2 separate regions of the Homo sapiens genome follow, and region 1 is linked to region 2. Evidence: fine-mapped expression QTL. A gene starts in region 2. The other region holds a variant in brackets. All regions are shown on one strand. Distances are between the middles of the regions.

Region 1 (2,929 bases), 8.2 kb after region 2:
ACATCTCAGTCATTAGCCACATGCAGCTTTAAAGACAGTCTAAAAAATTGATGTCTTTTATTCATGTATTTTACCCTGCTGAAATGCACTGTTGCAAAACAAACAAAAAAAAGACACAGAACCAAACTGCTTTCTTTTTTTGTTGTTTTAGACAGATCTATGAATGAGACTAATTTGCCTAATACTTATTCCTATTGACTTTTAGGAAGTTTTTATTGTTAGCAGAAGTTAGAAAAATAAAACTATAAACTAAATTTCTAATACTCTCTAAAACCAGGGTTCTGTACATGATTTAGACTTGCAGTAAGATTCATTAAAGTCTGTAAGACTTTATCTTTAGTTTAGGATTAAACTGCATAGGAAGAGACACAGGATTGAGGCCTCTATCTTACTGCTAAAAGCTAATCTGAGATGCAGAGGATTCTACAGCCTGAAAAACTGAGAAAAACATTGCAAGACTCACATACTTTAAACATGATTACTTCTATGCATATCTCAATTTAAGAAAAGACAAATGCAGTATTATACAACACTCACATTTTAGCATAATTTTGAGGAAGGGTCTTAGCTCATAAATTTGGCCTCCTAATGTGAAAACTAAATTTCTGAAGCAGGGCACGTTAAGCCTCATACCTGGGAACTTGGGAGAGATTTGAGAACTTGAGAGAGACTTACTTTTATTCTCAGTTTTGTCAAATAGTAGTATTTGGACCAATGGCCTGAATGAAAAACTCCTTAGAAAGTGTTCATAGGCTGAAAATTATTCATCATGCTGGAATGAGCCTACCTCAGAATATTTGCACTGGCTGTTTCCTGTACTTGGGGACTGTTTCCCCTGAAAAAAAAAAAAAAAAAAAGTTTGCATGGGTCATTCCCTCACATCCTTCAAATCTTTACTCAGTTATCACCTTTGTAACATGTACCTGACCATCATATGTAAAACTGTGATTCCCACCCCAGCCAGGTTTTCCCCATTCCCTTTTGTTCCCTAAGCACTTAGCACCTCCAAACATATGATATAATGTAATTGTTTAATATATTTTTTCTTTTTCCCTATGCTAAGATTAAACCTCTATCAGAGCAGGGAAATGTATTTTTTTTCATTCATGTAACACCACTTGCAGGCACCTTGTAGGTATTTAGTAAATACCTGTTGAATGAACAAAGAATTAATGAGGAGTCTGGCCAATATTAAATATTGAAGAGCAAGAAAGAATAAAATAAGTTTACATTTTAAGAAAAGATGGTATGTGTATATATCTCCAGTAAATAGATTTCATCATATGCCTAGAAAGGGTAGTGTTTTATTTTATTTTATGCTTCTATTTGCAGGGATATGAACTTCCAATTATATCATTGGACTTGACTACTCCATTTCTTTCCACATTTAAAAATC[G/GT]TAAGTTTACTTTACTTAGGTTACAGAAGGAAAGGCAGTGATTATTTTCCAAAGTAGGCTGAACATAAAAGTAGCAAAGTTGCTTGGAAAAAAGAAAGATGTAATTTGAATTGATAGTAATTAAAATGAAATGACTTCTCAGCCTAGAGAAGAACATTTTGAATACGATGATCAATAGACAACATTATTCTGACAATTCCAGTGTTGCTGCTTATATAAATGTATGCATTACACTGAAGTACAAGAAGTTAGACTGATTTGAGTAATTCTAAACACTAGTTCAATATACAAAATAGAAGGAGCAGCTTTCAATATCCCTCTAAAAGACCATGCAATGCTTATTACCCAGTTTCACTGCATTCCAGGCCACCATTTCACCTGCAAAGGGGAGTTTAAGATTATGCCAGAGCAAAGGGCTGTGATCACTGCTTGGATTTCATTTGATGGGTTTAATAGACAGGAAATCTGCCATGGAGATGACATCTGCAATATACCTTTTATCCTGAAGAATCAGGGAGAAGCTATTTTGAGAACTTAACACAGTATTTAACATGGGATTTCTGAATGAAGACAGTTTATGGATGAATAAGGTAAGTAAGCATTTAGACTGATGGGAAAAATAGGAGTTGCCAAATCCATTCAAATTTTAAAAATTATCTTTTTCTACCTTCTTGTCTGAGCACCTGAGAATAAATCAACATGTGTCTTTGAAAATGTATATTTAATAACAAATAGTACTTAACACTACAAAGTATTTCATACCGATGGTATTCTTCTGATGACTAAATAGCATATTTCCTAATCTCTACACAAAACGAAATTCTATAATTTAACTTTTTGGTCAAAAAGATGAACTTTGAAACATTTTAAATTTTGAAATTTTATAAAACATTTAAAAGTAGATGAGTATCTGAATATCAATTAAGCCACGTAGCCCTTGGTAGTTTCTTATTCACAGTAACGATTTCATAGGTAAGAGTGCCTGTTATCACTAATTAATATCAAATATTAAAAACTATGTAATTCCCACCTTTAAGGATACTTTAATATATTGTGATTATTAATTTAGATGAACTTTATGAAAAACATTTCGATTAAAATGTCTCTCATTAACAGAGAATACAGAGGATTTCTCTTCTGAACATATGACATTTTTTTTTCCAAATTGCATAAAATTCAAAAGCTCCTTTTTAATGCAAAGATAGAATTGAATGACTACTTTTGGTATTTGTTTGGTTGTGTGTGCTTTGCTTCCAGAAAAATAATTGAACTCTTTTTTTTTTTTTTTGGTCTAAAGAATCAGCATTAAATCTTGCTTACCCATTTGTACATTCATTTAGTAAGCAAATAAACTACATTAATAGAGTGAGACTTATAACAGCAGAATTTTTTGGAAGATCTTGATAGTACTATTAGCCTATTGAGTCAATGATTTTGGCCACTATGACAGTCAACTTCACTCTTTCAATAGCCACAATTGATATAATTTGCCATATATGCTTCAAAATGTTTTATTGGAGGTCTGGATCCTGA
Region 2 (2,929 bases):
TTTAAACCACAACTTTAATGGTAATTTGTTACAGCAGCCCTTGGGAATTAAATACAGAATGTAATCTTGCTCTGTTAGTTTGTTTGTTTCTGTCTATTCTTGCTCGTGGGCACTTTGTACTCTTGGATTGCAAGGTCTTCCTTGAGAATTGTGGATCCTGACTTGAAGATATGTTCATTTTCAAAGAGCATATATGTAACTATTCCAGAAGCCTGAGGAGTATCACTAGCCTGGACCAATCTTTTTATGTTAATTTTTTACGGACCAAGGCACCCTGATGGATCCAAATAATACAAATGTGAACCCCAGACTGTGGGTAGGCCAGGCAGTTGATTGTGAATTTGCTTGGGAGGATTTCTTTTCTGTCCTGGCCACCCATCCTGCATTAGTTAATTTTGTTTTAATCCACTCTTTCACTTTGGTAGAGCTGCCCTCCAGTTTTTCGAGGACCGTAGGCTACATCTTCAGCTCCCATATTGCTCTAAAACCCACTTTCATCAATGAGAAGACTGGAACCTTTCCACCTTCACCCCAGATCTGTCCGGTTTGCTTCAGTTTGAGAGCTAAGCACTCTAGTTATGGCTATAATTTTTTTGTCTCCTCTTTGCTTTTAATCTCTGGTAGTCTTTTATGTGAGAGCACTTATAATTTTTAAAGGACTTAAAAATAGTAAATCCAGTATTTCTAAGTAAATTGTACCATAAAGTGGAACAGCTAGGTTTAAGTTTAAAACAGAGATCCAAATGTTGCACATTCTAAATAAATACTATTTTATTAAGTAAGTTTGTAAGAAAGACTCAAAATTCCAGTTTCCTCGTTGTGATTTTATACTATGGCTATACAAGGTGTCACAACTGATGAAAAATGGCCGCAGAGTTTATGGAATTTCTGTATATTAATTTCCCCATCTGTGTGTGAATCTTCAGTTACTTAAAAATAAAGCATTAAAAAAGTAAATAAAAATAAAATTTGCTAAACCACAAGAGTTTCTTTCTTTCTCATGTAAGAGAAAAGCTAGGTCCTGATGAAGGTAGCTTAGGTTTACATATCTATCTAGAATGTAAGCTTTATTTCAGCTTTCTTCTACATAATTTCTATACTATATGCCATGGTCTCAAGCGAGGCAAGGAGAATAGGGTTTGGAGGCAGGGAACCTAAGGCTGATTCTGCCTGACTCGATATCAGAGGCTACTCCCTTTTCAACCCCTCCTTTATTCTGCATGGCAGTTGCTGCTGGCAGTTGTAACCCCTCCTTTTGCTGCCTCGCAGTTGTTGCATGGCAGTTGGAAAATGAAAGTACCTCTGATTGGTCCCCTCCTGCAACCAATCAGATTGGTCGTGGGCCTCCTCTTCAACCAATCAGACTAGTCACAGGTCACTCGAGTGAACCAATGGGAAACCTCTTGAGGGTATATAAACCCCAGAAAATTCTGTCACCAGGGTCGTTGAACAGCTGCTCTGCAAGCTCCCACCCTGTGGAGTGTACTTTGATCTTCAATAAATCTTTGCTTTCATTGCTTCATTCTTTCATTGCTTTGCTGTGCATTCTGTCCAATTCTTTGTTCAAAATGCCAAGAACCTGGACAATTTGCAGTCAAGACCCTCCACCGGTAACACAATTTCCAAATTGGACTTAACATTTTCATTTTTCCAGAGCAGATTGGAGGTAGAGAAGAAAGAAGGCATTTCCTTCTTTTCAAAGACACATCCTCAAAGTTGCATATATTATTCTTTCTCGCTTTATATGTCAGATGTTAGGTATATGGCTACACTTCCTGGAAGCTTCCTGAGAATTGTAGCATTTAAGCAGCCAGCATTCTAAAATTAGAGTTCTAGTTCTATGGAGGAAGGGAGACTATTGGAGTTCCTCTAAGTTTCTGCCATGAGCATTTTCAGGTTACGTTGTCTACATGTTATCTAATACCAAAACCTCTGTTAGTATCTTCTTTATTATATAGAAAATAGGGAATTCTATCAGGCCATAAATACATGTTTGTTTTAAAATAAAAATTAAAGTTCTATTACATAAAGATTCTGAAAGAATATCTACAAAATGAAGTTCTGCATTTGGTAAGCTATTCAGAGGCATTAAACTGCCATCTATGGATTTTTCTAAATTACATATATACTTATAAATAATTTATAAGGACAAGATTTTAGAGTTACAATGCTTGCCAGTGAAATTAAGGAAGAGGTGAACTTCATGGTAGAGATGAGAGCTCCCCTGAACTTTTCATCTCTCTGCTTGACATGAACAAGTTTATGACAAAGTATAGTTGATGACTCAGAAAATCTTTTGACAGATGTGCAGAAGCTGACAAATTCTCCACTTTGCTGGTAAAAAGTTACATATCCATCTTGGTCTTTTTCTGGACTGGCACAATTTGCATCTCCCTTATCAGAACCGTATTCAAGCTTACAACAGCTGATAGTGTCACTAATGTCATTGTACCCTATCACGACAGTCTTCCACTCTCTCTCTCTTCCTGCCCCACATATTGCCCAATATATTAACATTGCTTATGTTGCTGTTTTATTAGAAAAGACACTTACTCTTCATTCATTTCTCAGTCTTTCACTCTTTCTCTTGTATACACACACACACATAATTAATACTTGCTCGTCATTCAATCTTACAGTGAAATTCTGGTAGTGAAATCCATATTTTCCTATAATTCTTATAATGAAATTATCATTTCTCAAGAAAGGAGAACTTAAAGACAGGTTAAAATGAAGTACATTTTCTCTGTCAACACTATGCTTTCCTATTTGATGGATGATTATTTATACACAATTCTGTTTACCAAACAATGGTCTGTTGAGGTATTTAATAAACTGAAATAAGATTTTTTTTTTCTTTGAGACAAATTTCTATTAAGGTAACATATTAAATTTTCACCGCAGTTGCTGTGGATTAATATCTATTTGG

Alleles and levels. Alleles are on the strand shown, and positions count from the first base shown. SD is a standard deviation of normalised expression in the study named.
For the expression in testis of the gene that starts at base 1,439 in region 2, allele GT in region 1 goes with a lower level than allele G (large effect, 0.90 SD a copy in GTEx).

What was found. PIP is the estimated chance that this variant, and not a neighbour inherited with it, causes the effect.
Region 1: its variant is the best candidate, but not a certain one, in a credible set for the expression of LINC01794 in testis (GTEx, PIP 0.56).

The regions. Positions count from the first base shown.
Region 1 is chr2:40,753,234-40,756,162 of GRCh38, forward strand. LINC01794 (long intergenic non-protein coding RNA 1794) reads left to right here. Exons shown (of 4, transcript NR_183396.1): 2 at 1,333-1,396; 3 at 1,905-1,986. The region is part of intron 2 of LOC105374497 (a long non-coding RNA gene); the gene reads right to left. Among named protein-coding and RNA genes, the nearest start is that of LINC01794, 8.2 kb to the left of the region's middle. The variant G/GT (reference allele first, on the strand shown) is at 1,397.
Region 2 is chr2:40,745,043-40,747,971 of GRCh38, forward strand. It overlaps LINC01794 (long intergenic non-protein coding RNA 1794), which reads left to right and starts at 1,439. Exons shown (of 4, transcript NR_183396.1): 1 at 1,439-2,070. The region is part of intron 2 of LOC105374497 (a long non-coding RNA gene); the gene reads right to left.